Regions from separate parts of the Homo sapiens genome. Here region 1 is linked to region 2. The links come from fine-mapping of genetic effects on gene expression. A gene starts in region 2. The other region holds a variant in brackets. All regions are shown on one strand. Distances are from middle to middle. Region 1 has its middle 40 kb from the start of LINC01310. Region 2 holds the start of LINC01310 (long intergenic non-protein coding RNA 1310).

The links. PIP is the estimated chance that this variant, and not a neighbour inherited with it, causes the effect. A credible set is the group of variants that fine-mapping cannot tell apart.
Region 1: its variant is the best candidate, but not a certain one, in a credible set for the expression of LINC01310 in skin (TwinsUK, PIP 0.63).

Annotation. Positions count from the first base shown.
Region 1 is chr22:48,904,426-48,909,803 of GRCh38, forward strand. No RefSeq gene overlaps it. Among named protein-coding and RNA genes, the nearest start is that of LINC01310, 40 kb to the left of the region's middle. The variant T/C (reference allele first, on the strand shown) is at 2,459.
Region 2 is chr22:48,863,882-48,869,259 of GRCh38, forward strand. It overlaps LINC01310 (long intergenic non-protein coding RNA 1310), which reads left to right and starts at 2,889. Exons shown (of 7, transcript NR_038944.1): 1 at 2,889-2,966. RefSeq lists an enhancer at 4,910-5,378.

The DNA.
Region 1 (5,378 bases), 41 kb after region 2:
TCCGTTACTAATAAACAAGATGATTCTGCTGACCTCCTGCCTTTAGTCGTGGGAGGCCAAGGCCGCATCCATCCCTGCAGGTCATGAAGCCTTCCACTGCATTTTCGCCGTTCTCTGATCTGGGGTTTTTCAGCCTATAGAACTGCCTCTCCCAGACAAGAGTGAAGATGGCGAAGGGGTGTTTTAGTTTGTTTTTCTCTCTCTGCTCTCTGTTGCCTCACTCCCATCATGATGGAAAACTCGTAAGTGAATCATAAGTGAATACCACCCACCCTGTGAGACAAAGCCCCTCCCGTGGCCCCGCACACCCCCTTTAGCTCCAGGTTCTCTGTCCCCACTCACAGCGGCGCTCCAAGCCCCACTGTCTTCACTGTCTTTGCTTTCTTTCCTTACATTCCGTGTTTTAAATAAACTTTTGATTTGGGACAATTTAGTGGGAAAAGCTGCACACAGAGTCCCCGCATCCTCCTCACCCTCTCAGTTCCTCTGATGTGGGCACCTCCCATGGTGTGGCACGTGAGACCTGCACCCCTCTCACCCTCTCCGTTCCCCTGATGTGGGCACCTCCCATGGCATGGCACATGAGACCCGCATCCCTCTCACCCTCTCCGTTCCCCTGATGTGGGCACCTCCCATGGCATGGCACATGAGACCCGCATCCCTCTCACCCTCTCGGTTCCCCTGATGTGGGCATCTCCCATGGTGTGGCACATGAGACCCGCATCCCTCTCACCCTCTCGGTTCCCCTGATGTGGGCATCTCCCATGGTGTGGCACATGAGACCTGCATCCCTCCCACTTTCTCGGTTCCCCTGATGTGGGCACCTCCCATGGCGTGGCACCTGGTGGGGCACAGGAGAAGCCCACCCTGGTGCATGCCCGCCGTGCACTCGCTCCAGCTGGGTCTGGCCAGGGTATCTGGCCGGTAGCCAAGAGAGGTGGGTGATGAGGGTGAATCCAGGCAGTGCCAGGCCCTGTCTAAGCAGCCCCACTCTGCCCCTTGAGTAGGTGGTCCTGGCCAGGAGACACTGCAGGGTGGACACTGTCCCCACCCCGTTCAGGTGTCCCTCCCACTCCTGGTCCCAGTCATCCACACAAACCTGATGCTGACTTGTGTCTCCTCCCTCGGGGGCCCCCAAGGATGAGTGTCCCATGGTGTCCACGCCTGTGAGGACCACAGCCAGGCATCCTGACGTGAGCCTGGGAGAAGCATCACTCTTATTTCTTTTGGATGACAAAAGGCGTTGCTTGCACCTTTTCCCCCGCAGTGGTCTTTCCTCAAACAGTGGTCTCCTGGCCAGCCTGCTCCTGGCCTCCTGGGCGGGTCTGCAACAGGCAGGACCACACGCTGGTGGGCTCCTGTGGCTGGAACCAGCCTCCTCTCTCCGAGGCAGCCACTGGTGGATGCGCAGGGTCCTGGGCCCAGTATCTCTTTCCCATCACCCCATTAAGGTGTTCTAAAGACAATCATGCCTCCTCTGCTGACCCTGAGGCCCTGCAGAATAAGCAAAGAGCCGCCCCCAGAGCTGCTGCCCATCCCTGAGACTGGCAATTTCCATGGGTGAGGGGGAAGCTGATGGGGACAATGATGTCAAAGAAAATAGAAAATAGCATTTCTGGGGAGTCATCCACCTGCAGGGGAAGGGCCCACGCTTCTCCCATCCCTTGTCACTTGCCTGACGTGCCCTCCCAACTCCAGTTGACTTCTGGCTGATAGGAATATATTGCCATTAAAAGTAACGGCACAACCCAGCAAAGCTAGGGTGGTCCTGCTGGCTCCTCCGATTAGCAGGAAATAAGGTTGGGAGAAGGACACAAGTTCATATGGAAATGAAATCAAACCCAGCACCACGTGGCGGCAGAGGGATCTCTTTCTTAACCCCGTCCCCGGCGCTGTTTCAATATTACATTTTTTCCTTGGGTTCTGGAAAATGAAACACCTTCTGCCCATTATGCTCTGAAATCGAGCACATTTGGGGACAGCAGGCTGCGGGGATGAGAGCAGGCATGGCAGCTGTGCGGTGTTGCTTCCCCCAGCCTTCCCCGCAAGGCCAGTGCCCCTAATTTTCAGTGCAGGAGGAAGCAGAGCCTATCTTCACATTTACCTTCCCTCTGAAAGTGCGTTTGTGTCAGTGCCCTGATTACAGGGCCTCTGATGTGTGAGGACACTGGGTTCGGAGGTGTCCCTGGGCCTGGGGGGACATGAGCGCATAAAGCCGTCGGTGGGATGCTGACTGTGTGGGAGGTGCTCGCATGAACATAGATTATCTCTAAACCTCACAGGAGGCTTAGACATCATCTATGCTTCCAGAAGCTCCAGTTGACAGAGGCCGGAGTGTGGGAGTTCGCAACATGCATAATCACATCAGCCAGTTCTCAGGATAAATACTCTGTTTTCTCTGTGTCTATTTATCTCTTTATCTACCTCCCCATACCTCTATCTCTATGTCGCTGTCTCT[T/C]TCTATCCTTATTCCTGTCCTTTTCTCTAGCTCCATCATTGTCTCCCTCCCATTCCTATCCTTACCTCCATCTCTATCCCTAACCCTATTCCTAGTGCTATCCCTGTCTGTCTAATGCCCACTTCCCTGGCCTGGGTGATGGCGCAGGTGGTATCCACCGTGGTGACAGCAGCTACACCTAAGCCAAGAGGTGTAGGCAGAGTCACTGCCCTGTTTTTAAGGGTTGGTAGGAATCGAGTTTTAGCATTAATGCATAATTTTTCAGTTAGTTGTATTAGTTACGTAACTGAGGGCTCGTTTCTCATAGTGACGAGCACAGTTCTTAAAAGTCCAATCCAGTGAGTTTTGACACAACTGAACCTCAGTAGCACACGTCACAACCAAAATCAGGAAGATGTCACCTCCCTGAAAGCTTCCTTGTGCCACCTCCTGCGGTACCCATTGCCCTGCTGCCCATCTCCATTGACTGGCCTCGCCTGTCCAGAAACTTTATAGAAATGGAACAGGGTTAGGGTGTGTGCTTGATTTCAGTAGCTGCTTTTACTCGGTGTAATGCTTCTGAGACGCCTCTGTGTGATCAGGTCTAAGTGGCTGGATTTGTATTGCTGAGTGATATTCCCGTGGATGAAGAGTCCACAGTTTGTTTATAAAACAAAGTCACCTGTTGAGTGTTTAAATTGTTTCCAGTCTGAGACTCTTATGAAAAAGCTGCTATGAATATTTTTATGCCGATGTTTCTGTGAACCTGCTTTCATTTTATCCAAATACATACCTAGGTGTAGGGTCCAGCCCTACGGGGCTTAGTGGGTGTTCTCCCCGTGTGCGGAGACGAGAGACTGTAATAAAGACACAAGACAAAGAGATAAAGAGAAAACAGCTGGGCCCCGGGGGACCACTACCATCAAGACGCGGAGACTGGTAGTGGCCCCAAAGGGCTGGGCGCGTTGATATTTATTGCATACAAGACAAGGGGGCAGGGTAAGAAGGGTGAATCTTCTGAGTGATTGACAAGGTGAAGCAAGTCACGTGATTACAGGATAGGGGGCCCTTCCTTTTTAGGTAGCCGAAGCAGAGAGAGAAGGCAGCATACGTCAGCGTTTTCTTCTATGCACTTATAAGAAAGATCAAAGACTTTAAGACTTTCACTATTTCTTCTACTGCTATCTACTACGAACTTCAAAGAGGAACCAGGAGTACGGGAGGAGCATGAAAGTGGACAAGGAGCGTGACCATTGAAGCACCACGGGGAGGGGGTTAGGCCTCCGGATGACTGCGGGCAGGCCTGGATAATATCCAGCCTTCCACAAGAAGCTGGTGGAGCAGAGTGTTCCCTGACTCCTTCAAAGAAAGGAGACTGCCTTTCGCAGTCTGCTAAGTAAAGGGTGGCTTCCCAGGCACTGAGTTACTGCTTGACCAAGGAGCCCTCAAGCGGCCCTTATGCGGGCGTGACAGAAGGCTCACCTCTTGCCTTCTAGGTCACTTCTCACAATGTCCCTTCAGCACCTGACCCTATACCCGCCGGTTATTCCTAGGTTATATTAGTGATGCAACAAAGAGTAATATTAAAAGCTAATGATTAATAATGTTTATAATGATTGATAATTCTTCATGGTCATCTCTATATCTAATTTGTATTATGACTATTCTTATTCTAATTATTTTCTTTATTATACTGAAACAGTTTGTGCCTCAGTCTCTTGCCTTGGCACCTAGGTAATCCTCCGCCCACACCTAGGAGTAGAATTTGAGAATCATGAAGTAGAGACGTGTGTTACACTGTGAGAAACAACAAAACATCTTCCAAAGTGATTGCGCCAGGAACCACGCAGGGGTGCCTGTTCCAGCTCCTCGGTAATTTTGCCCACGCTGCACGCTGCCAGTCTTTTCAATTTCAACCATCCTAGTGGGAAACACCTGGCATGTGTGTGTCCCCCCGTGATTAATGACGCCAGCAACTTGGCATGTGCCTTTTGGCTATTTGTGTATTTTCTTTTGTGAAGTGTTTCTATACATTTTTGTCAATTTGTTTGGACTGTTTTCTTCTTCTGGAATTGTAGGAGCTATTTTTTTCCTATCTATTTTGGATCTGTGTCCTTTGTCAGATATGTGCACTGTGAATATTTTCTTCCCATGTCTTGCTTTTTCATTTTCTTAGAGGTGTCTTTTGTCGAGCAGATGCTTTAATTATGATAAAGACCAATTTTATCAGTTTTCTGTGGTTAGGCTTTCTGCGTCTCATCTAAGAAACATATGCCTATCTCAAGATGATGAATTATTCTTCTATGTTCTCTTCTAGAAGTTTAATGGTTTTGCTGCTTATGCATAAGTCTGTGATGAATCTTGAATTACTTTTTGTGTATAGTGTGAGGCAGGCATAAGATATTTCTAATGATAACTCACCTGCTCCAGCACCATCTCCCTTCCCCACTGAATTTCACCAGGATCTTTGTTTCACATCTATTGACCAAGAAGTTCTGTATCCATTTCTGGACATCTTATTCTGCCCGTTGGCTTTTCTTTCTGCACACTGACACTGCGCTGTCTCGATTCCTGGTGATTTATAGTAAGCCTGGACTAAGGTACTGAAGTCCTGCAACTTCTGTCTTTCTTTGAAAGTTTGCTTTGGCTGTTCTAAGTCATTTCCATTTTTTTATGAATCTGCTTGTAAATTCCTCCAAAGAGATTCTGCTTGGACTTCTGTTGAGATTGATTTTAAGCTATAAATCTATTTGGGGGGAACTAACATCTTATAAACATCGAGTCTTCCAATATGAACATGATGTATTTTCCTTTTATTTGTGTCTTCTTTCACTGTTAATAATGTTGTCATTTTGATTGTAGAGGTCTTGCATATCTCTCTTTAAATGTATTCTGAAGCATGTTACGTTTTCAAATGTAAATAATATTTTTAAATTTTCAT
Region 2 (5,378 bases):
GGCTGGTGGAGGCCGTCTGGGGTTGTTTCCTTGTATGAAGGCAAGTTCCTGTTGGGGGATGAGATTGGGGTGATAATGTTGCTTTCTGTACTAAAAAAAAATTTCCTAATGCACATGTGTAATTTTCACAAAAAAATAAAATAATTGAAATTACTAAAGAGAACAAGCAGACGGGTTTTCACCATGGCCTGGGCATGAATACCTCTCTTGACCTTGTTCTAAGGCACATGGGGACTGCTGGGTGGAGCATGGATCTGGATAGCAGGCTGAGGTGGAGCCTCCCAGCAATCGGCTTCCAGGAGGGAATGGTGTGCAGGCCAGCACCGCCTCCTCTCCATGGACCACTCAAGGCTGAGGCTCCAGAGCAGATGCCTGTGCTATTCCTGACTATTCCTGAAGAGATTGGCACCTGCGGGGCCTGAGTGTTTCCCTGCACAGAGGAGAGCAGGGACTTTGGCGACCCTGGACGCAGCTGGGGACACTGGGCTCGGTTGAGTGCTGTATGAGAGGCCAGTCCTGGTCACAGTAGAATCTGGGGCACATGAAGCTGGGGATTAAGGCAAAGACAGCACATCCAGCCTGGCCACATTGTGGTTTCTATATAAGTTCCTGATGGGCAGGCCTGTCTCTGATGGGCCAGCAGCTGCCCCCATGCCCCGGCACCCACGCCAGTCATCCAAGGTCTCAGAAGGAAACATCTGAGACACTCCTCCAGCTTTGGAATCATGAACTCAGCTCTTCCTGAAAGTATCGTGTGTGTGTGTGTGTGTGTGTGTGTGTGTGTGTGTACCCATGTACGTGTGCATGCGTGTGTGTGCCTGTGTGTTTAGTGCTTGGGGGGTGTGTGTTTGTGGCTTATTGAAACTATGAATTTTACTGAATCAGTAGAGCCGATCATTCTTTCTGCACAAACCTGGTCCCACCTCGGTCATGCCTCTGTCTGACATCTATCAGTCAATTTATCCATCAATGGTAGAATAAAGTCAATTATCAAAGCTGGCAGTGCGGCCGGCTGCTTTCTTGAAAGTAACAATCAGTCGGGGAGCATGTCTTGCTAATTCCATCCTGAATCTGCCTTCTTCCCTCTTGGGACAGGTGCCTGCGTCCGCACCCCTTTCCTCTGCCAATGGGGAGACCACAGGCTTCCCTCCCTGCTTGCGTGGGCTGGACCCCTCCCCACCTCGGCATGGCTTGTATCAGGGGCAGGAAGGTAGCCAGGAGCATCACGCATGTGAAGCAGTAACTATTTTAGTACATCCAAGGGAGGGAGCTGCTTCCTGCTTTACACACAGGTCCAACAACATGAAGACGGGAATCTCAAGAAAAACAAAGTTATAAATCACAAATCAAGATCATAAAATAAAATCAGTATTGAAATAATGGCAGTAAATGGGTGCTTTTGATGTGGTCTGCGTTGTAAGACACAGGGAGAAAATGCCTCTGTAAAACTCTAATAAATCGCTTTGTTTAATCACTAGAATATAAATGGAATTTAAAGGGTCATCTGAGAGTCATCCTTTAAAATAACACATTAGCTTTTCTTCTATGACAGTTTGGGGGAAAGATGCCATTATTTAGAGCTTGTGTACTTCATTTATTTTTAAATTAATAGTTTTTTAGTTTTCTATCTTCAAAAATTTCCTTAAAGCATTCATCTACTTTCTCTATTTCCTTTTCCCTAATTTCAGAGAAGAGTTTGTGTCTTTATTTTCCTGTCGTGGATGCAGAGAGCTCCTGCGGGTGTTTACAAAAGGTCCCTTGGTGTCATTCTGCTTCTTGGCCCTCCATCACTCATGGAATCACAGCTGATGCCTGGGCTCACAGTTCTCCGAGAAATCACTGGTGCCAGGGAAAAGTGTTCTCTGATTGATATAGCACACTTGCTATGTTTCACAGTTCAGCCCAAGCTCTAGCTGCTATTTCTTAAGCAAATGTGTGCTGTCTTCGTGGAGGTGGCAGTGGAGAAAGGAAAATATCAGCTCTCAGTGATATCACTAACAACACCCAGGGCAACAATTACGCTGGCACGTCCTTTACTCTGGGACCTGCCTGGCCCTGAGGCCGTGTGGGCTTTGCTGGTCGGGTCCTCCCAGCCCTAAGAGGGGCAGGTCTCAGGATCCCATTTTGCAGACCGGGAAGTGGGGTCACCAGACAAGGACTGCACACTGTCCCACAACAAGGAGTTGTTGGATCCCAGTCCCAAACCCAACGTGTGTGACTTCAGAACTGGTGCTCTGAGGAGCTTCTCAGTCACCATCACTGTGCACTCCCTTAGCAGGGATGGATGTGGAAACTCACTCCTGAATTGGACAACTATTGCTGTTTTCCGTGGAGCTGCCAGAGGGATCATTGTAGAGCAACGGTCACCAGAGCACCACTCAGCTGTAAACACTCACTGCAACGAAGCTAAACCCAGACGACAGATCTGGCATGGCCTGGCCTCCGCTGCTCCCCAGCCTGGAGGACTCTGGCCATGCCTCGGGGACATTTCTAGGCTGGAGCATAGACGAGCCAGTGCACGGACCTCCAGTTCTGAGTCCTGCCCTAACACCTGGGAGGAACGTGTGAGTTGTTGATGAGCCGCGATCTGTAGCCATGCTGGAGGAGTTGGCATGAATGGGAAATCCACCTTTCTTGCAAACTCCGACATGCCACTGAGAATTCAGAGTGATAAGCTTAGCCTAAAGCTGCCTCCTCACATAAGTTCAGCCTAAATGGCATGAACCCAGGAGGCGGAGCTTGCAGTGAGCCAAGATCACGCCACTGCACTCCAGCCTGGGTGACAGAGCGAGACTCTTTCTGAAAAAAAAAAAAAAAGTCTTTCTGTACACAGTGAACTGTACCAAACTGGACGTGTAAATAGTCTGTAACCTACTCTTGTGCCAGTCATCGAGTTTTCCCTGATCAAGTAAGACAGACCCTAAGCTGGAGCCAAGTGGCTGCTTCTGGACTGCGCTCTGTCTTCCGTAAGTCACCCTACTTTTTCTGTTCATAAATCTTCTTTGGTCCCACGGCAGTGCCGGAATCTCCCTGAATCTCTTCTGGTTCGGGAGGCTGACTGATTCCCGAACCATTCTTTGCTCAGTTAAACTCTGTTAGATTTAATTTGTGTAAAGTTTTTCTTTTAACGAGAGTTAGCTTCTTCCTCCTCCCTGGCCTCGCCTGTCCTTGCTGATGCGGAAACAGGTTCCAAGAGAGGTGCCTGAGCGCGGTCAGGAAACCTCCAGACGTGGCAGAGCCACGGTGACAAGGAGATCCTGTCTCAGGCTGGGGATGTGGGACCCAGGTGTGCAGGCAAAAGAGCTGGGGAAACTGAGGCCTGCAACGGCACAGGGGGAAGCACGAGCACTGTGATCAAAGGCTCAACCCTGCGGTCCATTCCCTGCCCACTGTGGGGCCCAGAGCTGTGAGCTTGGATGCCGGTGTCATGAAGTTAAAGCACAAAGCTTCTGAGTCCCCGTCTGGAGGACAGCTGCCCCGGCATGCTGCCCAGCTGGCTCTGACAGTGTGAGGATAGACTCTCACTGACCCTGCGCTTGAGCTGGACAAGCCTGTGACTCCCTTCCAGCAACAGAATGTGGCCCCCATGCTGCGTAGTACAGAATCTTCCAGGCCTCTGTCCTGGCACCCCTGCTGCCTGAAGCACCTTCCCCGAGGAAGAAGCCACCGGTTTGGAGCGGAAGAGGCCAGCCAAGGGGCCGGGGCCTGGGAACGGTGGGTGGCTGTGCTGAAAACCATCTGAATCAATTCAAGTTGAACTTGAACTGCATTTTATTCCACTGACATCAGAATTGGATCTCCTCTGGGGTTGTGGGAAGGATTCAATATTTAGAGACATTAATTACTTCAGCACCACATTCTGCCTACTGTACGGTACACATGGGGGACAGGACTCAAATTAAACTGGTCCCTGCTCCTGGGGAAGCCACATTCAAAGAGGAGACAATTGTGAATGAAGCTGCCTGGAACATAATGGGGCCGTCTGCAGGGGAAGGCAGGACTAGCTCAACCCTAGGTAATTAAAGGTCTCTGTGAGATGGGTCTTGAGGGTTGAGTAGGAGCTTAAAAAGCAGTTTGAAGGGATGAGTCTTTCCAGGAAGCAGGAATGACCTGTGCGACCCTGAGGGGGTGCAAAGGACAGAGTGTGCTGGAGAAGGGAAGGAGTGCTTTGTCCTTCGTCCTGCCTGGTGGGGCAGGGCCTCCGGGGTACAGACCCCACCACTCGCGTGCACCAGGGGTGACAGCCAGCTCCATGCAGATGGCCTCCAAAGCGGTCGCTCCTGGGCTTAGCTTCCCTGAAATTAGAAGCAGACGCCTGTGCACGTGTATTATCAGCTTTCGAACATTGAAGGAAACAGCTCTTTTGCAATAACTGGATTCATCATGATACAGATTTTCCCTGTGACCTCTTTATTACTTTTACGCACCACCTTGTATTAAAAAAAAAAAAAAGAAAAAGTCTCAGCCTTCTACTCCCTGCAGCCTGGTTGACTCAGATTTCTTTCACTGTTTCTCCTGTACAAACAGGCAAGGGAATGAACCTCCCCTGCCACGGTTTCCAAGCATATTAAAATATGGTCACCCCTGCAGAACTCCTAATGTTCTTGTTTAATGTGTCAGAAAAGCAAATGGAATTTTATTTTGCTTTGGCACCAGTGGAGAAGAATAATCGTGTCCTCATCAGGAGGGCTGGAAGCAGTGTCCATTTGCAAGTCCTGCAGATGGGGGGTCAGGGAGGCTTTGCCTGAGGCTAAAATGCCCTCAGAATCCTCTGCCAGTTCCTGGCCCGGAGGCCTGGTGTTAGTTAGCTCTACAGCTACAGAGAGAAATCCTGGAAGATGGCTTCAGGCCCGCAGCTTCCCAGGAAAGGAGGTCAGATGACATCTCCAAAGTGGTCCTTCCTGGAAGGTTTCAGAGATGATCAACCCCTAAGCAGGGCCCGTGCCTGGTGACTCTCGGGTCCAGGGATGGCTGGCATATTCCTGGCACCGTCCCTGGGTGGGAGCAAGGGCACCATTTGGTTTTGCCTGGAAATTGGACCTTGGCTCCTTGTTCCAAACCGAATGTGGCTGAGGAGCACTCAAATAGTTTCAGGAAACACCCTTCAAATTCAGTTTGCTGGGTTCAGCAAGTCAAAATACAGGAGGATTAGTTACATTTGAATTATAGATAAACAAGGCACTTATTTTTAGTCTAAGCATGTCCTAGGCAATATTGGGGCTAAACTTATAACAAAATTTATTTGTTGTTGACCTGAAATTCATATGGGACTTAGGTACTGAAATTTACCTGGCAATCTACCTCCAGTGCAGCTGACGTTACAAAGGGACTCTGGGTCGTGGAGCTGCCCGGCGTCCTGGCTGTGGGATGGGTACAGG